4 linked regions of the Homo sapiens genome follow. The protein of the gene in region 3 interacts with the protein of the main gene of each other region in a pairwise test. Each region holds a gene or a part of one and is shown on either strand. Other genes may lie near its edges.

Region 1 (7,023 bases), on a different chromosome or scaffold from region 3:
GCTGCTTCCTCTGCCGTCTGTGTGACCTGGTTCAGGATCCCTGAGCCTGGGCTTCCCTGGCTCATCTGATTCGGGCTGTCAGTGCCTCATGTGAGCTTCTGCTCTGCTGCTCATCACCTCACTTTCTCAGTTTTCCAGTTCCTAGGGGATCACAAGGATGATTCCAATTCATCTTTCAAACTGTTCTTCAGAAGGCATGGGTCAGAGGTCACCGTGCATTGGCTCTGTGTCAGGTATCTGCTCCCATTTACTGATGTTTTAGGTTTGTAGGAGTAGAGTCATGTGATATGGAACATGGCCACTACCTTTTTAGGAGGTAAATGGACAGAAAACGTTCCCATGAGAGATGGTATGAGAACTTCGTAGAACTTTCTGTATCAGTAGTCTACTTTGCCCAAACATGACTACTGCACTCTAAGCTATCATTTAAAGAGATGTTCCAACCTCAGTGGCACATCAGAAACAGTGTACAGCCATCCAGTTGTCCCTCAGCATCCACATATAATTGTTTCCCGGACCCATCCCCCTGAGGATATGAAAATCTGTGAACACTCAAGTCCCTGATATAAAATGGCATAGTATTTGCATATAACTTATGCACATCCTCCTGTATACTTTAAATCATCTCTAAATTACTTCTAATATTTACTACAATGCAAGTACTAGGTAAATTGTTGCTATACTGTATTGTTTTACAATTTGTATGATTTTTATTGTTGTATTGACATTTTTTGTTGTGTTTTTCCTAAATATTTTTGATCCATGGTTGGTTGAATCCACAGATGCAAAACCCAGATAGAGAGGGCTGACCATACAAGCTAAGGGAAAGAATACATGTTCCTATTGCTGAACACAAGACCCCCTGCTGTGCAGTGATAATGCAATCTTGATAATAATAGCAATAAAAGCCACCACACATGGTGGCTCATGCCTATAATCCCTGCACTTTGGGTGAAGGTGGCAGGAGGATTGTTTGAACCCAGGAGCTTGAGGCTGCAGTGAGCTGTGATTACATGACTGCACTCCAGCCTGTATGACAGAGCAAGACTCTGTCTCAAAGAGAAAAAGAAAAAAAGAAATGCCTTTTATTGGTTTCTTATTATATGCCACACACTTCACATACATTGTAAGTCATTCTTCTAATAGTTCTAAAGGATGGACACAAACATCTCTATTTTACAGAAAAAGAGACTTCTAGGAGTTTCAGTAACTGGTCCAAAGTTACCTTGCAAGAAAGTGGTAAATACTCAGGTCACTCGGACTCCAACACCTATGTTTTTCTACTGTATTATGCTGATTTTTTAAATTTTAACAAATATCATTTAAAGAAACTAAGACAAGAAATAGATTCTACTTTATTTACATGGATATTAATCATTTCTGCTGCTCTTCCTCTGTTTCTGAAGTTTAACGTGCACTCCGGTGTCATTTCTCTTTAGCCCAAAGAACTTCCTTTAGCATTTCCTGTAGAACAGGTCTGTTGATAACACATTCTACTCTTTCCTTCTTCACAAATGGCTTCACCCTACCCTTCTTTCTATATTTTCACCACGTGCAGAATTTTAGTTGAAGGTCTTTTCTTTCAGCAGCTTAAAAATGTTTTCCCACTGTCTTTTGGCTTCCATCATTCTTGATGAGAAAGTTAGAGCCTTGGGATTATTTCCCCATATGTTTTATGTAATGATTTTTTCCTCTGGCTGCTTTCAAGACTTTTTTTTTGTTTAGAGTTTTTGGTAATTTTATTATTATGTGTCTTGACTAATTTATAGGAGTTTATTCGCTTTGGAGTTTGCTGAGTATCCTGTATCTGTAAATTTGTGTTTCATCACATTTGGAAAGTTTTCAGGCATTACTTTTATGAATATTTTTTCTTCACCAATATCTACGGCCTCTGCTTTAGGACTCCAATGACACAAATGTGAGAACTTCTGATATTGTTCCACAAGCCTTTGAAACTTCATTTATTTTGTTTTCAATCTTTTTTCTTTCTGTTTCTCATATTGAATAATTTTTATTGCTTTATTTTCAAGTTCACTTACTCTGTCCTCTCTCATCCCTGTTTTATTATTGAGTCCATTGCATGGGTTTAATTTCAGATATTGTGTTTTCTAATTCTAAAATTTATTTTTGTAATTTATAGACCTTATAATTTCTTTATATTTATTTCAAGAGTATTCACCCCAGTCTATAGAAAATGGTTCTAATAACTACTTTCAAGTCTGTCTGATAATTCATATATCTAAATCATCTTTGGTTTGGCTGTCTCTTTGATAATTGATCAGATTTTCATTATTGTTGGTATATCAAGTAATTTCAGGTTGTATCCTGGACACCTTGAATTTTATGTTGTCAAAATTCAAAGTGTTAAATTCAGTGGAGAATTCACTGTTAAAATTCTCTGGATAATGTTGATTTTTAAAAAATTTGATTATTATTATTTTTTCGGCAGGCAATCAACCAACCCAATCTGTCCCTTTCTTCTGTGGTGGCAGTTTCAATTTTAATTCATTTTTCAAAGTCTATGTGATGCTGTTTGTGCTGTGCACCCTGGGGCGCACACCACTCAGGGCTTGCTCTGGAACCTGGACGGTCTTCAAACTGTAATTTGGTTCTTAAAGACTTTGCTATGCTTCTTGGTCTGTTTCCTGTGCATGTGCAACTTGGGGGTGTGCTTGGTATTTGTGTAGGTTCAAACGTGGAATTTTAGAGTCTTTTCTTTAGCTCTTTTCTCTGTGGGATTTTCTTTACACCCTCTGGCTCCTCGGACTCTTTTTCCCAGTTTCTCTGGCCAGAAAGGTTGAATTCTGAGTTCTGGCCTCCTGCGCTGTGGCACAGTTCCATGCAGCCATGACACATAGCAAGCAGCAAGAGAAAGGAGAAAAAACATAACCATGATTCCTCCCTCCTCTTTGCACAATGAGGGTTCCTTTTTGTGATTCCTCTATCTAGAGGGTTGGGTCATCATTTGGGATTTTAAGTGCCCACGCCTCCACTGGGGCAGCAGTGCAGACCTGTATTTAAAGCTGATCTGGAGGCAGGACTAAGGGAATAAAAAGAGGAAAAAATAAACATGGGGATTTACTCTGGCTTTAGGGGGCTATTTTCCTAGATTTCTAGGAAATGAATTCAACTAAAGATTTTTGCTATTCGCACCTTTTACACAGTTCCCCATTCGCTTGCCTTCAGGCCAAATCCATGAGGAAAAAAGAAGAAAATCAGATAACTTTGCAACTTGATCTCTGTTAAGACTTGACTTTCCTTCTCACTCCACTTGCTATTATTTACTTTCAGTCCTTATATGGTTGCTTGTCATACTTACCTAGTTTTAGTTGTGATCAGTACAGTCGTAGAATGGATTTCTTATTCTCTGAGCTGCTTCTTGTTGTTAATGATTATACCCCTAGCACTTGGCACAGAAGCTGTCCTGTGAAAGATAACCTCAACCTATTTCTAAATGAAATAAATGAAAATGTAAAATGTGAGACTCACCAATTGCCTAATAAACTATGGTAGGACAAGGACAGCAAATATTTGGCCACACTCTGCAACTCGTAATTTCCATACTCAAAGCTGACATTAGTATCTCTTCACTGCCCTGTTCCCTGCTGAGCCTGAATACAACTGCAGAATATTGTCTAACACAGCAGCCCTGGAAACCATGCCAAGTGGCCAGCACTGGTATGGGAAGTGAAAGCCTATCATGTATTCCTGTTTTCAGGACTTGGTTATTCACATAAAAATCCGAGCCTTCCTTTTCCATTTAACTGAAGTGACTCCTCTTCTCAAATTTCCATCCTCCCATCCTCTTTCCTGTAAAACTCCAGTTGATTGATAGATTTCTTCTTTGCCAGGAAGGCTTCTTGAGAAAAAAAAATATTCTTTTCCTTCTTATCAAGTTGTATATTTTCTTAAAATATAACTTGACTAATATGTTTCACTGAGCGTTCCCCCATCTATACTATCAAGAATTTATTTTAGCTTTTTATCCTTTTGGAAATGATGAAATTGGTTAAGATTGGTAATTATCCAACTCAAAAATGATCGTTAGAATTCCTTTTTGTTTGATTACCATATATCACCAAACCTACTATTTCTTACCAGCTGTTTCCATTAATTTAGCCTTGCTTGTCCTTGACTCCTATAGACTCCTATACTTCTCATTTTGAATCTAAGTGAAAATATTAATAGAAAGAGGTAAGCCTTAAATACATCTGATTTAAATTATCAGATTTGCTTGGAAAGCATAGCTAAACGAACTTCTTTTATGGTTTTGCTTGTCATTTTTTATTGCCTTAGACTGTTTTCTATAGAGCCAACAATCTAAATAGAAGTGGATATTTTTGTTGTGGTTAGGGGCTTGGGGTGACTATTATCAGCTCTCAGAGATAATCATGGTACAAATATATCTTAGAAGAAGATGTGAGGTAGTGTTTGTAAATAATGTGAATGCATTTACATGTGTTTGGACATTCGGTATGAAACACTTCTAGGCTACCCAACTGGGTACTTAAATGGGAGAACTCTTTAGAAGCAAGAACCTTAGGTCTTCTTGCTTCTAAAATGGAAAATCGTGATGGAAAAAAGAGCTCCCACAGTATATTAAGCATGTGTGTGGTACAAACATTGAGCAAGAGGAGTTGATTGAAGGTCACCAGCTTGGACATCACTGATTCCAAGGTCATCTGATAAGATCTCCTGTTTGTTCAGACCCATCCCTGGCATTCTATCTAGCAGTGCCATAGCTGAAATTAGAAAAATGAAGATGAAAGCAACTGACTGTGACAATCTGCTGTGTACACAATCTAAGTGTATTTTTCTTTCTTTTCTCTTTTCCTCCTGGGGTCTCCAGTTTACCGTGGTTTCTGGGCAGTCCTGATGCTCCTGGGGGTAGTTGCTGTAGTCATCGCAAGCTTTTTGATCATCTGTGCAGCCCCCTTCGCCAGCCATTTTCTCTACAAAGCTGGGGGAGGCTCATATATTGCTGCAGGTACGTACGGTGCAATGGGTATGACTTTCAGCCACGGTTTTTCTTCATGTCTTTCTATTTTTCATTTCTATATTCAGGCGTCAGCCTTCTAGTAACAGTAACACAATAATATTTGTATACAATACTTCTTGAACACTAACTAATAATATTTGTATACAATACTTCTTGAACACTAACTGTGTGTCGGACACTTTTCAGGGACTTTCCCTTTTCCACATGCTGACACATTTAACCATCATGATAGTCTCTGCTCACTGTAAGGCCATTATTATAAAGAGGAGAACACTGAGGCTTAGAGGAGAAAACTCTGTCACTGACTCACTCCAAGGTGTGTAAGAGACTGTTAACCTCTTACCCTATTAATTTTCTGTCTGTAAATGGGGATCGTAACATAAGTCTCTGTAACATATCAGCATATGATATGGGTAGGCATTTTCTGAGCTCTTCAAAGATAGCCCTGTGATGATATTTATGATAAGCATACACTCATGATTTATCATAGGTACAAAAATATTTTTCTACATCACTCCCATTCATTTTCTTAATTGTTTGTTGATGCCAGGTGTGGTGGCTCACACCTGTAGTCCCAGCACTTTGGGAGGCTAAGGTGGGTGCATCACTTGAAGTCAGGAGTTTGAGAACAGCCTGGCCAACATGGTGAAACCCTGTTTCTACTAAAAATACAAAAAAATTAGCCAGGCGTGGTGGCATGTGCCTGTAATCCCAGCTACTCAGGAGGCTGAGGCAGGAGAATCACTTGAACTCGGGAGGCGGAGGTTGCATTGAGCGAGATTGTGCCACTGCACTTCAGCCTGGATGACAGAGCGAGACTTTGTCTAAAAAAAAAAAATAATTAATTAATTGTGATCCATATGAATTATCTGAATATATTATTTTCTGTGTGAAGCTTGCATTTATTTTAGTTAGGTTTCTAACTAATTTAATTTCTGCTAAAATGATCACACTACAAATAGAAAAGTAATTGAAGAGGTGAGTCTTGTGAATTTTAAGCCCTTTTCATTTAATTAGGCAGTGAAAGCCAGACTATTAACTTGGAAACATAAGCACAGGCTATTATTTGTAAAGATAATTCTAGAAAACTAGCCAAACTTCAGTATGACTGAGACCAAACTGTACATACTATGCTGTATTGTAACATCAAACCAGAGTGACAGAGTGCTCCTAGGTGACACTGTAGTGACAGTTGAAGGAAAGGAACAGAATGGAGAAGGTTACTGTCCTTCTAATCATTGGAAAGATGGCTTGTGATGCTGCCCAGTGTCATTTCATCAGTGCTCAGGTAACACAATACTTTCTGCATAAGATTGTGCTTAATTCTGCAGAGGGAATAAAAATAATAATCAGATCTAGATCCTGTATTTTGTAGGGGCCAAGAGGAACAGAAGGTTCCCTGAAAAATCCACTTGGAAAAGGCAGATTAATTGAAGAAAAGGCATACATATAATTTCATGTGTATACCTGGGAGCTTTCAGATTGAAGACCCAAAAAGATATGGGCAAATTGTCCATTTTTATGCTTAGGTTCAACAAAGGATGGGCAGCTGTGTAGAAATATGATTGGACAAAAAGGGCAGGATCTAATGGTCATAGACTAAGTGGGGAACCCAGCGAGGCCTGTCCGTTTAGCTTCTTCATGGCTTCACTGAGCAGCACGCCTTCCTTCTGGGTGTGGGGCGGGACCCTCTCTGGAATTGGCAAACAAGGTAGGTCCGGTCAATTCCTTTGTCCTTTGTGGCCAATTTTTACACAGAAAGGTGGAGGGAGAGTTAGAGTAATATGTTCAGGTTTCGTGGCTGGCTTTGGGGAAAGGAGTTCTGGTTTCTATGATTCACCTTTGTGGAGAGGGGACCTTTGTGGTTTCTAAGGCCAGCCTCGGGAGAGAACAGGACTGGGAGGCAGGAGGGCAGGAGAAGGTCAGAGAAAAACTTTTGCTCCTGAGGCTGCTGCTGGGGCTTCATTTTGGAGTTTTGTTTCCTGAGCCCCAACAGTTTAAAGAGCTAAAAAAAAAAATCTCAC
Region 2 (7,023 bases), on a different chromosome or scaffold from region 3:
TCGCTCTTGTTGCCCAGGCTGGAGTGCAATGGCACAATCTCGGCTCACTGCAACCTCCACCTCCCGTGTTCAAGCAATTCTCCTGCCTTAGCTTCCCCAGTACCTGGGATTACAGGTGCCTGCCATCACGACTGGCTAATTTTTTTGTGTTTTTAGTAGAGACGAGGTTTCACCATGTTGGCCAGGTTGGTCTCGAACTCCTGACCTCAGGTGATCTACCCACTTTGGCCTCCCAAAGTGCTGGGATTACAGGTGTGAGCCACCGTGCCCGGCCCATAGTAAACTTTTAAAAAATCCTGATTTATTCTGTTTCATAGTTTGGGAAACACCTACTTCCATGACTTTGGCTTTGCCAATATTCTTGTGTTAGAACCCAAGGAAATTAGAAATAATAAATTTTAAGGAAATGCATTATGAAACAAGAACTTTTTAATTTCATAGTAGAAGAATCCAGTGAACAATTTTCAAGTCAGTGCTTTAAAAGCTCTGGAATAGGCTGGGCGCGGTGGCTCACGCCTGTAATCCCAGCACTTTGGGAGGCTGAGGTGGGCAGATCACCTGAGGTCAGGAGTTCGAGACCAGCCTGACCAACGGGGTTTTAGTAGAAACCCCGTCTCTACTAAAAATACAAAATTAGCCGGGCGTGGTGGTGCATGCCTGTAATCCCAGCTACTCAGGAGGCTGAGGCAGGAGAATCGCTTGAACTTGGGAGGCAGAGGTTCCGGTGAGCCGAGATTGCGCCGTTGCACTCCATCCAGCCTGGGCAACAAGAGCCAAACAACGTCTTAAAAGAAAAGAAAAGCTCTGGAGGCTGGGCGTGGTAGCTCACGCCTGTAATCCCAGCACTTTGGGAGGACGAGGCGGGTGGATCACGAGGTTAGGAGATCGAGACCATCCTGGCTAACATGGTGAAACCCCATCTCTACTAAAAATACAAAAAATTAGCCGGGCGTGGTGGTGGGCGCCTGTAGTCCCAGCTACTCGGAAGGCTGAGAGGCAGGAGAATGGCGTGAACCTGGGAGGCGGAGCTTGCAGTGAGCCGAGATGGCGCCACTGCACGCCAGCCTGGGCGACAGAGCAAGACTCTGTCTTAAAAAAAAAAAAAAAAAAAGCTCTGGAGTAAACTTGAAAGATTCCTCAAAATGTTACAGTTGCTTAACTGCTGTGGCAAAACTGTCTTGTAAATAGAAAATCATTAGTATCAAAATAATCTGGAGCATGTTTATTTATAAAAGTCAGAAGGTATTTTGTTATATTTAGCATCTGAGAATGGAATTTTCAAAGCCAATTGCTAATAAAGGAAATGTTCTCCTCTGGGAACTGTGCTTATAATTTTAAAGTCCCAAAGCACAGTATAGTTGCCAAACTAAGAAACTTGGAGTTTAGGCTTTGGGAATGATCCTCTTCCTACCCAACCATATTTTTCTGATGGAGCTTAGGAAAGCAAAGGATGAGATATGGTCTGAAAGATTGGCATCTTAAAATTTATGATTGAGTTGGCATTTCAGGAGATTTTGTTTCGGAAGTTAGCGTATAGGTTCTGGGGTTTTCTGCTTTACTTAATTGCTGAAGTGCTATTTAAATTAGAGCTTTACTTATTTCAAGGCTTCCTTTCTAGATAGATGAAACCCATATGGAGAGGAAATAGTGACATCATTTAGAAAGGGGAGTTTAAATCTTAACTGAAGATAGCGTGTAAGAGCAGGGGCTTGGGTCAGTTACATCTACCTTGAGCCTGGGCTCCGCCACATAAAGGCTGTGTAACTTTGAGTAGATCATGGAAGTTGTGGCAGCCTCAGTTTGTCCATCATTAAAATGGGGGTCATAAAATTGTATGTGCTTTACAGGATATTCATGTGGATTAAACGTATGTATGGGCTGACAGCAGAGCTTGTCACATAATATGTTAGCTATGTTGCTACTGATTAAAATAGATTTTTATAGAAAAAACTTTAATATTCATCTTACACACTTGAAAGGTGATTAAATCTTCAAGTTATATATATTTGTAGAACCTATTCATATTCATTACCTTTTAAGGAAAGTTTTATAGAAAGGACTTAGCCTTCTATGACCTATCTTCGGTTTATTTTCAATTTTAATTTTTTTTTTTTTGAGATGGAGTCTCGCTGTGCCACCCAGGCTAGAGTGCATTGATGTGTTCTTGGCTCACTGCAGCCTCTGCCTCCTGGGTTCAAGTGATTCTCCCATCTCAGCCTCCCGAGTAGCTGAGATTACAGTCACATACCTCCACGCCCAACTAATATTTTTATTTTTAGTAGAGACAAAGTTTCACCATGTTGGTCAGGCTGGTCTCAAACTCCTGACCTCAGGTGATCCACCCGCCTTGGCCTCCTGAAGTGCTGGGATTACAGGCGTGAGCCACCGCGCCCGGCCTCTTTTTGGTTTATTTTCTTGTGGAATTTTTCAGTACTCCGAATCACAGGCTTTAACTGTAGAAGGACCACTGAACACTGTTGTATGCAATTACCTTCTTTTATAATTAAAAATGGTTTTCAATAGACTTTGAGATTGAACTACTCAAATAAAATATTAAAGAACTATAACTACTTCAGGTATAAGAGAAATGCTTAATTTTTTTCAAGAAAATTTTTTTATGTTGAGAAATAATTTAGGAATTAAAAAAATCAGTAAACCTTAACTATGATTCCCAGGCTTAACAGGGAGAGGAGGTGAAAGATTATTTTCTCATATAACCAATTATTTTATGTTTCTTATTTTTGTTGCTCAAACAGTATGATTTTATTTTAAAAACTCAATTACTGCATGATTTTTGACTATTTAAAATTAGTTTTTCCAAAATCTATTTTTAAAAAATGTTTTGTGTTTGCCCAGGTTAACATGGTATTTCATTAGAAGAATTTTTATCGGCCGGGCGCGGTGGCTCACGCCTGTAATCCCAGCACTTTGGGAGGCTGAGGCGGGCGGATCACGAGGTCAGGACATTGAGACCATCCTGGCTAAGACGGCAAAACCCCTTCTCTACTACAAAAAAAAAAAAAAATTAGCTGGGTGTGGTGGCGCCCGTAGTCCCAGCTACTCAGGAGGCTGAGGAGAATGGCGTGATGGCGTGAACCCGGGAGGCGGAGCTTGCAGTGAGCCGAGATCCCACCACTGCACTCCAGCCAGGAGGACAGAGCGAGACTTCATCTCAAAAAAAAAGAATTTTTATCATCTTTAAAAAATGTTAAATTGCTCTCCTTGGTTGTTAGGACTAGAAGGGACTTTAAAGGTGTTTTTTATTTTTAGGAACAGGGTCTCACCTTGTTGCCCAGGCTGGAGTGTAGTGGCACAGTCATAGCTCACTACAGCTTTAAACTCCTGAGCTCAAGCCATCCTCCTACCTCAGTCTCCTGAGTAGCTCAGGACTACAGGCCTGAGCCATGGCACCCGGCTTGAGGTAGTTATTTTATAGAAGAGGATGCCACAGCTCAGAGAGTTTAAGTTATTAGCTCAAGATGACTTAGTTGGTTAGATACAGAATGGTTCGTATTATGAAGGTCTTCTATTTATTTATTTTTTGAGACGAAGTTTCGCTGTTGTTGGCCCAGGCTGGAGTGTAATGGTATAATCTCAGCTGACCGCAACCTCTGCCTCCTGGGTTCAAGCAATTCTCCTGCCTCAGCCTCCTGAGTAACTGGGATTACGGGCATGCCACCACGCCCAGCTAATTTTGTATTTTTAGTAGAGATGGGGTTTCTCCATGTTGGTCAGGCTGGTCTCGAACTCCTGACCTCAGGTGATACTCCCGCCTTGGCCTACCAAAGTGATGGGATTACAGGCGTGAGCCACCGCGCCTGGCCTATGAAGGTCTTCTAATTCCCGGTTGTTGTTTTTTATTTTTTTCTCATAGAATTAATTTACAGACTTTAAAAGCTTCTTTATTGATTAACATTGATAGATATGATACCCAAATGTTACCTATTTTTCTTATTTGGCTACAAAATCAAAAAAATACTATATAAATCTTTCAAAATGTTAAATGTTAAAAAGGTCTCAGAGTAAATGTGGAGACTCTTTGCAGAAAAAAATGTATGTGTTTTATAGAGAAAGTTGATTAGTTTCAGTTTTCCTGGTTATCGGATGACTGTGATTTAGACATTTGTGAGCACTTTCCTGGGAGTGGCCACTCTGGTATCCTTGAAAGGCACTCCCGGCGCAGTGCTTGAAGACCACAAGGCGCCTTACCCAGGCAGTGGGTGAGGGTGCTTGGAAGAAATGCTTTCCAGTTAATGACTGTTAGCATGAGAACCATTTGTTCTAGTAATAAGCAGTCATTCAGTATTCAACGCTTCTCTTTAGAACATTCACTGACTGTAGGGTCTGCTATGGACGGTGTCTGTATTTCTGAGAGGGGCTGGTGTTATCAGTGTTCATAAGGATATTATTCAGAATTTTATTGCCTGTTTTGACTCCACATAATCAATTTTTTCCCTACTGATTTAAAGAAATAATACAATCTTTTTTAAATCAATAATATTTAAGAGTTTTATTTTTATTTATCTATTTATTTTTTGAGATGGAGTTTCTCTCTTGTTGCCCAGGCTGGAGTCCAATGGCGTGATCTCAGCTCACTGCAACCTCTGCCTCCCGAGTTCAAGTGATTCTCCTGCCTCAGCCTCCCGAGTAGCTGGGATTACAGGCGCCCACCATCACACCCAGCTAATTTTTATATTTTTAGTAGAGACAGGGTTTCACCATGTTGGCCAGGCTGGTCTCAAATTCCTGACTTCAGGTGATCTGCCTGCCTTGGCCTTCTACAATGCTGGGATTACAGGCATGAGCCACCGTACCCAGCCGACTGCATATTTAAATTGGTAAGGTAGAAAATGAGCATGAGAGTCTAACAGCTGATGGATATGGGAACATAATACTTGATAAAATCATTCAGAATATGTTTGATAAACAAGAAGATTGTATAAAACCTGCACTGTCCTACTAATGTAAAGCATTTCTCCTCCCTCACTTTATTCTCAACCTTACAACTGCCAGAAATTATATAATCTTGAATATATTTGAGAAACTCTTTTTAAAATGAATCTTGTAACTAATTTCTTTTTTGAATTTATATATATAAATATATACATACTTATTTTATAATAGAGACAGGGTCTTAAAATGTTGACCATTGAACTCCTGGGTTCAAGCGATCTTCTCGCCTCGGCCTCTCAAAGGGCTGGTACAGCGTGAGCCACCGTGCCCGGCCATTGTAACTAATTTCACAGGGCAGATAATCATCCTTTAAACTGTTTGAAAAGATTTGAGTGTTACTGTTTCTGGTTTTCACACTTTTCCATCTTTTCTAGGATCCACGTAGGTGGAGGAGATTCCTCTCCACAGTTTGTTAAGCTACATTCTATGTTGTTAAGGTCTCCCAGCCCTTCTGGACTGGCACTAGAGGCTGTTGGGGGTGAAAAAGTACAGCTGTTTGTGTGTCATACTGCCTCTGGTTCAGAAAAGAGACGGACACTGACTCTTCACTATTAATTTTGCCAAAGTCTCCTTGAAAGAATGCTAATTTGTTCCTGGCACTGGGCAGGGTTCCTGCCTTCCAAGTCTTGTCATGTGGTGGTTACTTGGCTGGGGTAATAGTGAGGCACCCCCTCCCCACCCCCACGTATGGTCCCCACCGGGCAGCTTCCTATGCCAGTCACTGATATTTGTTCTCATGTTGTTTGCCCCAACAGTAGGGATGGCATTGAGCCCACTAAGTTGACTGACCTTTTGAAGAAAGTTAAACTTTATGGTGTTATTTTGAGTAGGCAGTCTGTGGTGCAGAATTTGTAGGCAGCAAAGGGTATTCTGTGAAGTTTCCTTTCTCCCGCCTGCCTCTCCCCAGGGACAGCCTCATGCCACACTGTGGTTCTCATGAGCACTGCTGTCTGTGTGGAAGGACCTGACCTGTCCTACCAAAGTCAGACATCTTTTTGATTTGTTGTCTTTGGCAGAAGCTCCTTTGTATTAAGGTCTCCATAGGGCCAGCTTGGGGCTTCTCTGTAAAGACTTTGCTGAGGTTTTGAGAGTTCCTGGGACTTGGGATTTACGGGCAACACTCTCTGCCCCTGGGTCTCTGATGTGGAGAGGATGTCTGCCATTGACACCGAACCCCTGAGTGGGCAACTCTCAGAGCCATATCTCCACAGTCCATGCCTGGCTAGTCCTGTGGTTTCAGTGGTCTACAAGACATTCCTAGGTGCATGCCCTTCAGTCCACACAAACTGACTTTGTCTCAAATCTGAATTCTCTCATTCTACTCTTACCACCCTCCTTCAGTTTCTTTCTTCTGCGATAAAATCCCAGATGACTCGGTTACTCAGGCTTGAAATCTCCTATTCCTTTGTTCCCGTGCCCAGGGCAGGATGCAGATTCTAACCAGGTGTGACTTGGAATCCTTATCTGTTTGTTGTTTGTTGTCTGTTTGTTGCTCTTGGAGACTTCAACATTTCAGGACTGCAGTATTGTAAATGCCTGCAGTATCCTAAATCCGAATTCCTTACCTCTCCTGGAATCCTTATCTGTCTTTTACTCTTTGAGATTTCCCAAATTTCAGGATTTATTGCTTGCCTTATTGTAAACCCTGTGAATTGAGCTCCCTCCTGTTAGGATTTGCTCTAGGTCCCTCCTAATCCATCTTGTTCTTTGTATCTTTCAGGAGTTCTGAAACTGCCCTAATAATTATTGGGGGGGTGGGGTGGAGTGATAGAATTCTGGCTCTTTTTCATAATGCTTAAACTTTAAGATCCTTTGTAGTCTTCTGTCTCTCATTTCCTTCCAATTCTTGTTTTAGGTTCAGGGGATACATGTGCAGGTTTGGTACACGGGCAAATTGCACATTGCTGAGGTTTGGTGTACAAATGATTTTGTCACCTAGGTAGTGAGCATAGTACTAGATGGGTAGTTTTTCAATCCTCACCAGCCTCCCACTCTCCACCCTCAAGCCCTGGTGTCTCTTGTTCCCCTCTTTGTGTCCATGTGTAGCTCCCAGTTCACTCTGCAAGTGAG
Region 3 (7,925 bases):
TTTCAAAGCTTTATTCTTTATTAAACAACAACAACAACAATCTTAGTAATTCTAAGGTTCAAAACTCAGTAAGGGTCAAGTGAAAGACACTGTCTAGGGGCAAGAAAGCTGAATTCTGTTCCTGGCACTGCCACCATTGGACTATCTGATCTTTGGCAAGTCACTTAATCTGCACTTAATTTCCTCACTCACAAAGGAAGGACGTTCAACCAGGCCATCTTTAAAGCTCCTTTTAGAAGTGGAATGTGATGATTCTATAATTAAAAAGCACAATGTAGAAAAGTGAAAAACTAGTAAACAGGAGTGATAATTATCATACATCTTAAAGAAATGGAGTTTAAACTCTTAATAACTTTTAATGATCCAGGTAATTTAATGATTCACTTAAAAATCAAGCTTTTAAGAAGTATAAACTACAATAAGATCAACTTGTGATTTTACATTTCCAAATGGTGAATTTAACTACCCAATGCTTTAATTTTGAGAAATTAATGCTTTAATGTTGAGAAAAGGAATGCTGCCATTTTAGATATTTTCAGATTACTCACTGAAGTAAGACTTAATTTATCCTTTAAAATGGGGCCATCTATAAGGTGCAGTTCAACCTAAATGTCATCTTCTAGAGACCACATGTAATAGCCCTATGAAAAAAAGGCTGGGCAATGCCAGCCAGTCAGCACGCCAGCCAGTCAGCCACATAAATAAATTGCACAATAAAATTTGTAACAGAAAATTTTGAATAAAATTATTAATAGAACACAAAAAAATGGAAAGAACAATTTGCTTAAGAATGGCAGCCTCCTGAAGCAACATTTACTGTTTAAATTGTTACATTTTCCTAAGTTTTATAAGTAATAATACGATTATTAATCATACTTTATTAAGATTTAAAGCATAAAAAGTCATTAACTCATAGGGCATAAAGATTTCCATGAGCTTGTTACATTTTATGTATTTTATTTCCTTAAATGGTTATGGGATTTTCCAAAAGCATACACACAATTCCTTAAACTTTGCCAACTTAGAATTAGTTACATAAAAATCACCCTTCAGACCGTATGGAATCCCCTAGACAAATCTACTCAGCCTTTCTGTGATAGGTTATCTGGGTGTGAATTCCACCACCACCTCCCCCTCGTCCCCGCCCACAAAAAATATATTAAGACTTGGCCCAACTAGATTTTACAGGCGACAGAGATGTAAAGAAACAATTTATGGCTTGCACAATTATCTAAAATTCCCGCAAACAAGCAGTTCCCTAAGTAGTATGTCATAATTTTCTTATCTATGAGTAGAAGCACGTGCATTTATTTATATCCCTAGATTAACTTCAAGTCTAATTTTACTGCCAGTAGTATCCAGGGGTGGATTTCTTTGTTCTAATTACAAATGGAACTTGAGCTAGATCAAAGGCATTTTAAGAAGGTCAAATTTTACTTCTCTGAAAAATAAAGGGTGTTATCCCATGTAATTAATTAATGCTTAGCCATGCCCTTTGGCGCATTATCCGGTGGCTGCAGAAAACCAGAGCCAGCCGTTCCCACCTGTTGGTGCAGTGAAACTTACTTACCCAAAAGAGCAGATTGAGGGCGTAGAGCAGGCAGCGCAGACACTTCACGGAATCTTCTCTGGCCATTGTGAGCCCCGTAAGGGAGAAGCCCCATCCTTTCACCACATCCTACTCCCAAGGGCAAAACGGCAGCGATCTGCAGGGGGCGGGGGAGAGAGAACACGGGACATCTCACCATCACGCTTCCCACAGCCTGCCCGTCCCTCCTCCACCCGCCCTCAGCAGGGTCCAGAGGGTCCCGAGGCCCAGTGCATTCGAGACATCGCCTCATCAAAAATCATTTGTTAAAATCATAATGGTAACTAAACTCCCAAAAGTTCCAAACCGGCTTCAGATAACACCTGCTGGGAAAAGAAAAGAGCAACTATCCGGATGAATGAAGTCGCACAGTAAACTCGCGTTCTCAGGGGACACGCGGCGGAGCCCTGTGCATTCTGATGAGACGCTCTTGAAAACCTCCCTCACTCCACGCCCCTCCTCGAGGACAGCTGTGCTCGGCACTGTCCTGAAGGTGAGAAACCACACTGCCCCCTACCCCGGACACGTCAGAGGCGCCACCGGCAAGCCCGAGAGAATGAGCGCCCTTCTAGTTAGGACAGTTCCTGGGCACTCCAACTCCGCACCCCTCTACCCCGTCCCGCAGCTCGGGTGTGAATGCAAGGGACTGGGGCGGCGGGGCGGGGGCGGGGGCGGGGGCGAGGGGGCAGCGCGGAGTTGAGATTCCGCCCGGCTACTAGGGTTTCTCTGGGAGAACGTGAGAAATGATGTTTTCGGCCCCAGAATGATGGATTAGCCTGGGACAGTGGGCGGGGGGCGGGGGGCGCCGGGGAATTAGGGCCGATGCAGCTGTGCAGACGCCGGGTTAGTCATTCAAACCCCGCTTCCCCCGCCCGGGACGCTCCCGCGACCCCTCGCTCAAAGCCGCCCGCGGAGCACAAAGCGAGCGCGGCCACCGACCCAGCCATCGCGTCCGCGCGCCCCCGGCAGGGCGCGAGGGGAAGCGCCGGCGGCAGGGAGCCCCAGAGCCAGCCCTTAAGTAGTTTAGCACACAGCGCGGAGGGCAGCCGCCGGCGGGCTGGCGGGACAGCGGGCAGGAAAGGCGACAGACGCGTGGCCACTTACCGTCGGCGCTGGGCCCGGTGCCCCACGCCCGCCTGGGGATAGTCGGGGACGCACGGCGGGGGCTCATCGGGGCAGGGAACTTCTTCGCGGAGAGCCGGAGGGCTGCATTGGCTTCAGCTGGAGACGCTTCTTTCTCTTCCTCTCCCCCCGCCGCCGCCGTCGCCGCCTCCTGGGAAAAAGAAAAAAAAAAAAAAAAGTCCTGGGCAGCAGTTGCTGGAAAGTCTCTGCTAAGCCACCTCCCAGCGCCGCTGTCCCTCCCAAGTCCTCTCCGAGTCCGGACGAGGCAGCGGCGGCAGCCAGGGCCAGCTGCACAAACTCTCAGCGCATGCTCGAGCCGCTGGCTGCCGGGGTTGGGTCCTAGTGGGTGTTTCTTGTCCCTCTCACCCAGCGAGAGTCCCCAAAGGGACGCTTCACCTCTGCAGGATAGGGTCCAGAAGATAATGCCTAGGAACTTGGGAGAAGTCCGTGCAGTAAATCCCTTTAAAATGGTGGCGTCGAAGGAATGGAGGCTGGGTTATAAGCATAGAGAAGCAGGCTTTTATTATATGATAATATTTGTGTTTGAGAAGGGGGGTGAAGGGGTGGCCCAACCCAATTCCTGCAATGAGAAACTAGTTTTCACAACCTTTATGGAGCCACCTCCTGTGATTTGTTATTAACATGGTGCCCTATGATCCTTCTTATTGCTTTGTTGCCCTCCCGGATTTTTTTTTTTTTAAGTTCTTTCCCACTTTCATAGTGCACTAATAGCATTTACGGAAACATCAGAGTAATCATGTGCAGTCTGACATGCAGAAGAGGAGGAAAGAACATTTTTAACTCTTAGAAGTAACTCAAGCTTTCCAAAATTTCTCACGATAAGATTGTTTTGAGTTAACTGGGTGATTTATTTTGAAATGTGTACATAGTAGTGGATCTTTGGAAAATCTAATTTTTTTAAACTAGAAATTCATGAAGTATTACACAGCAGGAGACCATCCTTCCAAAAGAATCTTCCCTTTTAGAAGACAGAAGTTTCACACTAAATAAAATGCCACTGGATCATATCCTCCACATAAAATGTGGATGTGTTGTGCTATGCCTCACAGTACTGCTCATTTCTAGGATTACTTTTGTGGGCACTGCATGGCAAATAAAACTTCACCAGCAAATATGAATTACCTGGAATACGAGCAACATCTTTGACCTAATAACTGGAGTCCTTGGATTTCCTTGCAGAAAAAAAAAAAAAAAAAAAAATGGAATCCTATGTCCATGACTGCCTGTCTAGAGTTAGTTGCTGCATGACTGGAGTGACAATAAGACATGCAGTCTCATATGGAAAAGTCAAGACCAAAAGACAACATGGTTGTCCTGGGTTAGGCTAGGAAAATTATTGGTAAGCAAGTCACTAAGCAGTATGTAAGACAGCAACCCAAAAGAGTATAAAGAAGTATAGCCATACACAAAAAAAACACCAAGAAACATGTCCAGTTATCCATCAGATGACTCCAACTCTGATAATGAAGCAGCTTCTAGAATACTGGGGAAGAGCAAAGAAACCCACTTTTATCCTCTGCCAGTTTCTTCTCAAATTAGGGTGCATGCCTATTTTAAGCAAAGGACTGCTGAAACAACCAGCCATCCAAATGCTGTTGGTGCCATACATTCCCCGGAGAGGTATAAACATCCCCGCATTGAAAGGAGTCCATGACTGCTATTAAAACTGAGAAAAAGAGTGCCAACAATTCCCATGTGTCAAAGCAGAGATCCTCTTCTACTCCTAGAAGGTAGTTAAGTGCCCTTTCCTTAATTCGTATACCTTTAAGGGTCAACTGCCTTAAAGTAATAAAATACTAGAGGAAGTTACTTTAGAAGTATGCATGTCCTCTTCTTCCTGGTAAACAAGAAATACAGATCCAAGATAAAGTAGTTGCTCAACGTCACATCTGTAGTCCAACCTAGATTCCAAAGTAAAATCCAGAATAATGGCTCTTAGTACTCTAGTTTAATGGTTCTCGAAATTGTTGTACACGAGAATCACTTGGAGAGCTTTGAAACAACCCTAATTCTCTGGCATGCCTGATACCACTTAAATCGGAGTCTCTGCAGGTGAGGCCTAGACACACAGGGTTTTCCAAGCTCCCAAGGTAATTCTAGTTTGCAGCAAAATTTGAAAACCCTGCAACGAGGGCTTTACAGCTGCCTAAAAACTAGCAAAAGGGTCTCTTTAGATTTCGTTGGATCAAATCCCTCTCCTGTGAGTCGATAAATTGGGATTATTATCCCCATTTTACAAGTTAAGAAGAAAACAGAGCTGTAGTTACTGCTCTAATATTCCTGATAAATGGTCATCAGAGACAGTGAATCAACATTTCAGTAGAGGAGACCTCACCACATTTGAGACATTGCAGTAATGGGCAGTTTTTATTGCTTAAACTTGACCATACCACCTTTTAACTTCTACCCTTCAACCTTAGTTCCGCCCTTGGAGTCCATGGCATGAGCAAGCCTTCCTCCCATATGACAGCCCTTCAACTACTTGAAGGCAGCTGTTCTTCCCTCCCTCTCCAATTCTTCTCTTTCCCAGAATTGTGGAAGCACAGTAAGACTTCACATCGCAGCTGTCATTCTGAGGGTTCTATATTTTTCTCTGTGAGATCTGTTTTTTTGTGTGTGTGAACAAAAGGAGGATAGAAATATCATAATATGCACATAAAAATTTGAATATGTAATAACATATTAGGAAAATTGTATGGTCTATTTACTACCCATTAGTCAGGAACCCAATTCTGTGGCCAGGTGTTCTCCAATAAGTATCATTTCAGTGGTGGTATCTACTGTGCCTCATGCTGAAGATACTAAGACAAGTTCTTACCCTCCAAGAAAAGGCAAAACTATCCTTTCTTATTATATAATAATAATAACAATAATAATGACATCAAAAAGTAATAAAATAAGCATTTACAAGGAATCACATACATGTCAGTCCCAGTGTCAGGAGTAAAACTCAGCTATATGTAAGAGAATACAAGTTCCTCACTCCGTATGGCAGCTTGTTTGTTCATATCTTATTCTATTCATTCTGCTAAAGTTGTGGAGAGAAAAAGGATAACACAGGAGTTTGGATGTATGAGTTGCTATTCCTTCTTAGTACAAGACCCTCACAAGTACTCCTAAGCCAGTACTTTACAATTAATATGGGATAGACACCTAATGTGTTTTGAACAAATTACATGTGTCTGACATAATAGGTGCTTCTCACAATTTATCTTATTAATTCCTCATAACTATATGTTGAGATACTTGAAATCAATTCAGATAGCTGATTTTTGCCAGACCCACACAGGTAGTAAATAAAGAAGCTGAGATTCTAAGATCTGTCTGATTCTTTCCACTGTTTATCTGCATTACAATAAAATTTCAAATCTGGTTGGACAAGACTTAAGAGGAAAATTTTCGAACTTTTTAAAGTTAGTTTTCGAGAATATGAAGCTGAAATTCAAATATGTGTACTTAAACTATGACTGGTAAATCTACTTTCACCTCACTTCTAAAAGAGTATACAGACCTAATAAGACCTGAGAAAATCCTTTCATTACTGAATTAAGTAGACTGCTTTCTACTGTAAGCTTAGGATTGCCAGATAAAATACAAGACACCTCATTAGATTTAAATTTCAGATAAACAACAATTTTTTATTTTTTGGTATAGGCATGTCCCAAATGTTGCATGGGACAAATATTGCACTGGACATACATATACTAAAAAATTATTCAATGTCTACCTGAAATTCAAATTGAATTGCAAACCCTACATTTGTATTAGTTGAATCTGGCCTCCCTATGCAAACTAGCAAATGCACTCAAAGAGCCACAAAAACAAATATGTTTCACATAACAATGAGTCCAGGAATAGCGATTCATCTGCCCAGTAGTGATATCAAGGAATCAGTTCTTTTTCCTCCTTACTCTCCTGACACACACAATGAGTAATCATACTATACTCAGGTACCTCCTCTTATGGTCACAAGATGGCTGTGCAAATTCAAGCATCATTTTCAGTTACCATTACTTCCAAAGGAAGAAGGTATTTTCTCCTATGAGTTTCTCTTAGGATCTAGCAAACCTCTCCCAGGAGTTCTGCAGCAGATTATCCCTTTGATTGATTGGCTAGAACCTGGTCACATACTCATATATCTACCAATTATTCACAAGAACTATGGTTCTACCATAACTGGTTTGTTTTGTTTTGTTTTGTTTTGTTTTGTTTTGTTTTGTTTGAGACAGAGTCTCACTCTGTCACCCAGGCTTGAGTGTAGTGGCTCCATCTCTGCTCACTTAACCTCTGCCTCCCGAGTTCAAGTGATTCTCATGCCTTAGCCTCTCGAGAAGCTGGGACTACAGGTATGCACCACCACGTCGTGCTAATTTTGTCTTTGTAGAGACAGAGTTTCACCATGTTGCCCAGGCTGGTCTCAAACTCCTGTCCTAAGGTGATCCACCCACCTCAGCCTCCCAAAGTGCTAGGATTACAGGTGTGAGCCACCATGACTGGCCAGGTTTTAAACCAATCAAGATGTATTACCTGTGCCTGGGACAGCCCTTCTCTAAAGCACAGGGCCAAAGAGAGGAAGGTAGATAACTGAACACAGTCAGATTTTTATTTGAACTGAGGGATAGAGAAAGGAAGGCATAGTACCATCCTCTCTCCTGTTCACTGCTAGGACAACCCAGCTCTCAGCCAACCATTTTGGGGCACTACTTAGCAAAGTTTCTTAGTTATTGAAAGAACCACTGAAGCAGGAACCTCATGGCAATAGCAAAGGACCCTGAGAAAACTCGTATCACATCATTTCCATCCCATGCCATAAGCTTACTTTCAGCATCGTCATTTGCATTTACACACCAGGTAATTCTTTAAAGAAGTGCCCAAATCAGTACCCTCCTATGAAATCCTAGAAAACTTTTCTCTTAAACTTTATTGAAACCTGACCTTCATGCAAAGTTTAGAAATTTGGACTCACTTCACCCACAGATTTAATAAATATTTATTGAATTGTTACTACAAACTCAGAACTGTGCTAGGAGATACCAAGAGTTCTACCATAATTTTGGCTCTCAAAAATTTATAACTTCATTAGCATGCTTCCTCTTCAGAAAGCAAAATTTATAGAATATAAGAGATCTTTTGTCCAGACTTGGTGGCTCATGTCTGAAACCCCAGCTCTTTGGGAGGCTGGGCCAGGAGTTGG
Region 4 (7,433 bases), on a different chromosome or scaffold from region 3:
GCGCAGTGGCTCATGCCTGTAATCCCAGCACTTTGGAAGGCCGAGGCTGGCGGATCATGAGGTCAGGAGATCGAGACCATCCTGCCTCACACGGTGAAACCCCGCCTCTCCTAAAAATACAAAAAATTAGCTGGGTGTGGTGGCAGGTGCCTGTAAGTCCCAGCTACTCGGGAGGCTGAGGCAGGAGAATGGCGTGAAGCCTGGGCGACAGAGCTAGACTCCATCTTAAAAAAAAAAAAAAAAAGAAAAGAAAATCCCAACACTTTGGGAGGCTGAAAGGTAGGAGGATCACTTGAAGCCAGGAATTTGAGACCAGCCTGGGCAACACAGTGAGACCTCATCTCTACAAGAAATATTTTTAAAAGAAATGAGACTGTAGAAGTGAAAGCATTTTTTAAGTGCATACAAATGAAAGGCATTAATACTTTCAGCATAGGTGGCTTAGAATTAAGATAGAACAAGCTCTCAAATTCTTGCAGAATAAAATGTAACCACAAAGCTACCTGAAGTGTCTACAGTGTAATTCGAGAAAGCATACAAGAATGAAAACACTCAAGAAACCATATAAAAATATGGTTATTAAAAAAAAAATCCGAGCGCGGTAGCTCACACCTGTAATGCCAGCACTTCGGGAGGCTGAGGCAGGTGGATCACTTGAGGTCAGAAGTTCGAGACCAGCCTGTCCAACATGGTGAAACCCTGTCTCTACTAAAAATACAAAAATTAGCCAGGTGTGGTGGCAGGTACCTGTAATCCCAGCTACTTGGGAGGCTGAGGCCTGAGAATCTCTTGGGCCCGGGAGGCGGATGTTGCAGTGAGCCGAGATAGTGCCACTGCACTCCAGCCTGAGCAACAGAGTGAGACTCCATCTCGAAAACAAAAAACAAAACACCATGTGTACATACTTATGTTAACCTCAAAGTTACCACTGTCTAAGAAACTTAATGTTCCAGGCCATATCCATGTCTCCTAATTGGTTTGAATAAAGGTTGCAGCTAATGAAACTGAGGTTGCTTACGCCACCCAGTATTTGCCACACACTGCAGTCCTTATTAGCAACACAGCCTTCATTTACTTCTGCAAAGAACTTTACAGCTTTTGTTTTAAGACAGGGTCTCACTCTGTTGCTCAGGCTGGAGTGCAGTGGCATAATCACAGCTCACTGAGGCCTCAACCTCACAGACTCGAGATCATCCCACCTCAGCCTCCTGAGTAGCTGGGACTACAGGTGCATGCCACCACGCCCATCTAATTTTTGTATTTTTTGTAAAGACAAGGTTTCACCATGTTGCCCAGGCTGGTCTTCAACTCCTGAGCTCAAGCAATCCTCCTGCCTTGGCCTCCCAAAGTGCTGGGATGACAGGCATGAGCCACCGCGTCCAGCCAACTTTACAGTTTTAACAAAAAGGCTCTCTCACATCTGTTAAATTATTTGACACTAAAAACAACGAGGTAAATGCACAGGAAGCAAGACTGAGGGTTAAGTGATTTCCTCACTGTCACACGGCAAGTAAATGACCCAGCTTGACCTTACAGGTAAGCCACCTGACTCGTAGTCCAGTGTGTTTTCCGTTATAACTTGTTTTCGTTTTATGAAGCCTATCTGAGTAGTAAGATATTATCAAAGGCTGAAAAAAAACCAACATTGTGGATAAAACAATAAACTCAGTTATTTATGTAGTGAAACAGAAAAAAAAAATCCCTAGGTAAACTTAGAATGGCTAACATTTACTAAGCACATATCACGTGCAAGGCACTCTTCAACATGCTTTCCATAGGTTATCTCATTTCATTCCTACATTGACTATTTTAAAAATACTTATTACCCTAATAAAAATAGCTACATTTATTAAGTACTTGTAGTGTGCCAGGCACTTAAGAGGCATGATTTCATCTAATCTTCCTAATGACCCTGTGAGGTTGCACTATGATTCTCATTTAAGATGAAGAAACTGATACAGAAGTCATCGGATTTATCCCGAAGGCAGGCATCTAGCAAGTGACAAGGCCCAAACTCAAGCCCCATTCTGCTTGGTTCTTTCTTCTGCCCTCCATGTGCCTCTCTAAGATAAGGGGTAGGGTAGATTCGGGACTTGTGTGAAGTAGGGTTGATTGGCTCAAGAGTGAGACAGAGAGATACTGAGCCACTTGACTTAAGAGGTTCAGCTCCTGGGGTTGAAAGAATCTTCAGATACCATTTGGACTAACTGGCCTGTATCATACCTGACAGATGACAAAAATTAGGGCCAAGAAGGGAAGTGACTTGTCCAAGATCACATAAACAGAAGATGCAGCCAACATGTATTAAATGCATACTAAGAGCCGGGTACTGTGTTAAGTACGTTTATTTGAATGATCCCAATCAATCCCTGCTTATGAGCTAAGTACGACATATTATTACCCCCATTTTACTAGTGAGGAACTCAGGCTCTGCAGGTGAAGTCACTTGTCCTGGGTCACGGAGCAATCCAAGCCTAACTCCAGATTTCTCTTCTTAGCTATGCCATATGGACTCTCGGAACTCAGTGGGACTCAAAGTTTGAGGAAGGTGTTTGATGAAGGAAATGAACCCCTTGCCTGAAAAATATCAGATTCTCGAGCACGAAATACCAGTCCCTCACCCCCGCCACCTGATCTAATTCACTCCTACTGCCATATGGGAAATAGAATGCTCAGAAGGAAAGCGGCTTGTCTGCAGTCACCCGGCCTAGACTCTAAAGGCAGGCTCCTATCTCCGGGCCAGGGTCCCCCCTCATCAATGCCACCGTCTCCGGTCGACCCCCCCACCCCCTCCATTGCGGGGTCCACCTCGGGACTGGGTCGGCCCTGGGGCAGGCTCTCAAGGGCCCAAGGGCTGCCATCCCGCGAATCCCGGCTGCAGTACAAGCTGGAACCTGAAGGGCAGAGAGTACCTGCAGGAGGAGACCGGAGGAGGCCAGCCGGGCCGCGTGGCCCAGCACCTCCTGGCTGCCCATAGCCTCCGCGCCAGGCTCAGACACCAGGAAATGCCGCCGCCACTCCGTTTAGTCGCGATAAGATGGCGTCACGGCGCGCCTCGCTGTCTGATTGATGGCCTTGAGAGAGGGGGGCGGGGCACGAGAAGTTCTGGTCCTTTAAGTGGGCCTGTCTCGGGCCGTCTGTTATGGCGCCTGGCTCTTTCTATTTCGGTAGGTTTTGCGCTGTCTGTCGCTTGTGCGCTGTCTGTCCCTCTCTTCCCCGTATAAACGAAATAGTGTGGCGAGTACTAAGAGATACCGTTAAAGAATCCAAAGTTCCTTCTCTGAGGCTTTCAGCCACCAACCAAGAAGCACTAACTTTCCTGGCCTCATCTGCCAAAAGGGGAACAAACTTCTCACTGGCCCGTTAAGAAGATTCTCACCATTGACCTTTGCTTACAGAATCACAGCCACAGACCCTCTGAATTAGGCTGGACAGGAATTGTCCTCATTTAACAGAGAAAGAACTGAGGACCAGAAGTTAGATATAGCACTGTTATGTGTATGGTTTTGTGAAATCCTTCCGAAAGCTCTGAGAATTGGCCCCTGTGGTTAGAGATGAGTAAAGCCTTGGAGATGGGAAGTGACTTGTTCGAATCTACACAACTTGTTTCCTGACTAAGTGGATACCAGGCTCCTGATCCTAAACTTATCACTCTTGCCTGTATGCTAGAAATTGTGAGGGCAGAGTGGAAGAAGGACTGGAAGTGCTTTGTAAAAAAATGTAAAGCGCCCAACATACACAATCAGCTGCTGTTCTGTCAGTGTTCTTATTATCTACCAAGCAGGCTGTAGGAAGCCCAGTCTTTCCCCAATCTCTTTCAGTCCTCACATGATTTGGCCCCAACCTATCTTCTACTACCTTTCACACGATCATTGCCCTTCCCAACACTATCTAGGCCATAGCCATTCCGAGTCCTTACTGGTCCTCAAACAGGCGGTGACTCACTGGCCTTTGCTCCTCCACCCTCTTTGTCCAAAGTGTCTTCCCTGACAGCACCCCTTGCCCTCCTAGACCACACTGTCCTGACTTTCCTGGCCAACCACAGCTGGTACCTGCTGTGGACTAAATGTTTGTGTACCCTCAAAATTCATATGTTGAAGCCTAATCCCCAGTGTGATAGTATTAGGAGGTAAGGCCTTTGGGAAGTAATTAGGTCCTGAAAGTGGAGCCGTCATAATGGGATTCATGTCCTTATAAAAAGAGATGTCAGAAAAATGATCTCTGTGTTTACTATTTGAGGATACAGCAAGAATGTAGCTGTCTGCAACCACGAAGAAGGCTTTGTAAAATGTAAGGCGCCCAACATACACTTAACAGGAACCAAACTGGCTAGCACCTTGATCTTGGGCTTCCAGCCTCCAGAGCTGTGAGAGAAATTTCTGTTTTTGACTTACCCAGTCTATGGTATTTTGTTACAGCAGCCCAAGCAAATCAAGACAGTACCCCTAAAATACTCTGTACCCCTTTATAGTTCCTAATGCAATCTGCATTATAGCAGAAAGACTAGAATATGTGTCTCTATATAATCAGCCCATGAGCTCCAAGAGGGCAGAAGTGCAGCCTGCCTGGTTTTGCTTCCTGAAGTAGCGGTACAGAACATTCTTAGGGCTCCTATAAATGTCTCCTGACACATGACTGCTGCTACTGCTGCTGGAAACAGACTGTGGAACTCAAAGCCTATCACTCCCATCTTCCCAGGTGAAATGAGCTCTGTCTTAGTGTGGAGGCCCAGAATGTGAGCTTTTCTTTTTCTTTTCTTTTCTTTTCTTTTCTTTTCTTTTTTTTTTTTGAGACAGGGTCTCGCTCTGTCTCCCAGGCTAGGGTGCAGTGGTACAGTCTTGGTTCACTGCCGCTTCCACCTCCTGGCCTCAGGTAATCCTCCCACCTCAGCCTTCCGATTAGCTGGGACTACAGGCGTGCAGCACCAGACCTGGCTGATTTTTTCTGTGATTTTTGTAGAGATGGGTTTTTCCCACGTTGCTCAGGCTGGTCTCCAACTCCTGGACTCAAGTGATCCGCCCACCTCAGCTTCTCAAAGTGCCGAGATTACAGGCATGAGCCACCGCACTGCACCCTGCCCAAGAATGTGAGCTTTTGTCTGTCAGAGAGAACTGACCTTGAATCCTCATTCTGCCACTCACTGACTGGGTGACCTCAGTATGCTCAGCTACTAAATAGGGATATTATCTGTCCTGTAAAAATAGTCATAAGGATTGTTTCAGGCAAGTCTGGCCCTCAGAGAGCTTAAATTCTAGTGAAAGGGAAACTGAAAAAAACTCTAACAAACAAATAAAATTTCACATAGGGCTAAGTGCTACGAAAGAATGAAACCAGGTAAGATCCTAGAGGCTTTGGAAGAGAGAGAGGGGTGCTGTTTTAGGATGAGTGAGTTGGGCACCCACCTGGGGAGGAGTGTACTTGGAGAATAGAGAAAGTGCTGGAGGGTCCAGGTATTTGGCATAATGGCTGAGATGCTAAAGACCTTGACCTGGGCAGCCTTCCCACCCCCCTGGACTGTGGGCCAGCAGGTGAGACAGCCTCCCACTTCCTTTATTCCCAGCCAAGCAGTCTCCTCCTCTACAGCTCATCCCCAGAGTAGAACCAGCCAAGAGTTCATCATGTGCACACACTCCTAAGCCTGGCATCCATGTAAGCTGCTTTGGGAGGGAAGAAGTGATCATTTTGCTAGGAGCAAAGAAGTCAAAGGGGAAATGCTCCAAGCTAAGTCTAAAGGGCAAAGCATTCTAGGACCCCAAGGTATGGACTCTGTGGGGCTCCTGGGTGAGGAATCCAGGGACTTTTTCTCTTATTCTGGAAGTTAACACTTGGCAAGGAGGGACTGAGCAGAGCCCAGAGCCGTGCTGGGTTCTGGGGTGGGTGGGGAAAAAGGAACTGTGAGGAGAATCCACAAACATTGACCACTGACTCCATGTCAGGCACCTGTCTGAGCACTCTACATGCGTGTACTCCATCCTGTCAATAACCTATGAGAGAGGGACTGCAGATCAGGAAACTGAAGCACAGGGATGTGACGTAACTCATCCAAGGTCATTCAGCAAAGGAATGGTCAAGGAGGTATTTGAACTCGGGTCCCTTCTGATTCCAAATGCGTGAACAGTAATGTTCCTCCCTTCAAAAAAAGCTTCTGATTGTAAAGGAGACCTAAGAGTCCCTATATGTAAGCCACAGAGAACATATGTGGCATTGAGAGAGTGGAGTCTGGGAGGGCTGCAGCAGTCGAGCTGTGGTAGGCTTGGAGGCATTCCCTCTCCCCAGTGAGGATCTCTGAAGGTCTTGACCCTGTTGGAGATACTGGCCTGCACGCTCCACTGGGAGTTGCATACTCCATGGTCTTGCCCATGGAGGACTCAGCTCAGGGCTGGCAAGTAATGGCCCACTGGACGTTGCATTTTGTATGGCCTACAAGCTAAGAATAGTTTTTACATTTGTAAATGGTTGGAAAAAAATCAAAAGAATATTTCATGACACATGAAAATGGTATAAAATTCAAATTTCAGTGTCCACCAGGTACAGTGGCTCACGGCTGTTATCCCAGCACTTTGGGAGGCCAAGGTGAGTGGATTGCTTGAGGTCAGGAGCTCAAGACCAGCTTGGGCAACATGGTGAAACTCCATCTCTACAAAAAAATACAAAAATTAGCCAGGCATGGTGGTGCGTGCCTGTAGACCCAACTACTGAGGAGGCTGAGGTGGGAGGATCATTTGAGTTTGGAGAGATCAAGGCTGCAGTGAGCTATGATCATGCCACTGCACTCCAGCCTGGGCAACAGGGTGAGACTCTTGTCTCAAAAAAAAAAAAAAAATTCAGTGTCCACAAATAATGTTTCATTGGAACATAGCACACGTACCCGTTTGTTTACATATTATCAATAGCTACTTTCTTGCTACAACAGCAGAATAGGTTGGTCCACAAAGCTGAAAATATTTGCTAGATGGCCCTTTACAGAAAAACTTTGCCAATTCCTGGTGATCACCATTGAGCACCTGGGATATAGTAAACATTTCAATATTGAATGAATGAATGCATGTGTAAGTGCATTGGAATAAATGAATGATGAAGGACTAGGAAAGGAAGAAAGACAAGTACATAGGGCTCTTGTACTCTTGGTCCTCTTGGAGAGGAAGTGGCCCCTTGAGAATACCAGGCTGTAACTGGTGGTCATTGAAGGAGCCGTTTTCCCCAGCCTTCCTCCCCGCCTCCTGCGTCTGTGCCAGGTAGCCTCCCTGCCAGGGAAATCTGACCCAAGCCACCTATTTTATTACAAAGCTGGAGGGAAGTGCCAGAGCTGGTGCCAAGCCAATTAGGCTCCTAGGGCAGAGGAGCAGGGAGGGAGGCTGCTAGTGGGCCAGGAGACAGGGTGGAACCTCTGGCCAGCTGGGCCATGGATCTCAGCTAGGTGGAGGCAGGAGAAC

The links.
Region 1: the proteins of TSPAN12 (region 3) and TMEM182 interact in binary tests that used the Homo sapiens proteins (3 or more experiments, as listed by UniProt).
Region 2: the proteins of TSPAN12 (region 3) and CDS2 interact in binary tests that used the Homo sapiens proteins (3 or more experiments, as listed by UniProt).
Region 4: the proteins of TSPAN12 (region 3) and RFT1 interact in binary tests that used the Homo sapiens proteins (3 or more experiments, as listed by UniProt).

Annotation. Positions count from the first base shown.
Region 1 is NC_000002.12:102,793,014-102,800,036, forward strand, and holds part of TMEM182 (transmembrane protein 182 isoform a precursor), read left to right. Parts: intron 1-4,849; coding exon 4,850-4,987; intron 4,988-7,023. UniProt on the Homo sapiens protein: Negatively regulates myogenesis and skeletal muscle regeneration via its association with ITGB1. Modulates ITGB1 activation by decreasing ITGB1-LAMB1 interaction and inhibiting ITGB1-mediated intracellular signaling during myogenesis.
Region 2 is NC_000020.11:5,130,001-5,137,023, forward strand, and holds part of CDS2 (phosphatidate cytidylyltransferase 2), read left to right. Parts: intron 1-7,023. UniProt on the Homo sapiens protein: Catalyzes the conversion of phosphatidic acid (PA) to CDP-diacylglycerol (CDP-DAG), an essential intermediate in the synthesis of phosphatidylglycerol, cardiolipin and phosphatidylinositol.
Region 3 is NC_000007.14:120,855,128-120,863,052, forward strand, and holds the start of TSPAN12 (tetraspanin-12), read right to left. Parts: upstream 3,018-7,925; 5' UTR 2,693-3,017; intron 2,082-2,692; exon of another isoform or gene 1,708-2,081; intron 1,707-1,707; 5' UTR 1,637-1,706; coding exon 1,571-1,636; intron 1-1,570. UniProt on the Homo sapiens protein: Regulator of cell surface receptor signal transduction. Plays a central role in retinal vascularization by regulating norrin (NDP) signal transduction.
Region 4 is NC_000003.12:53,127,426-53,134,858, forward strand, and holds the start of RFT1 (man(5)GlcNAc(2)-PP-dolichol translocation protein RFT1), read right to left. Parts: upstream 3,011-7,433; 5' UTR 2,976-3,010; coding exon 2,913-2,975; intron 1-2,912.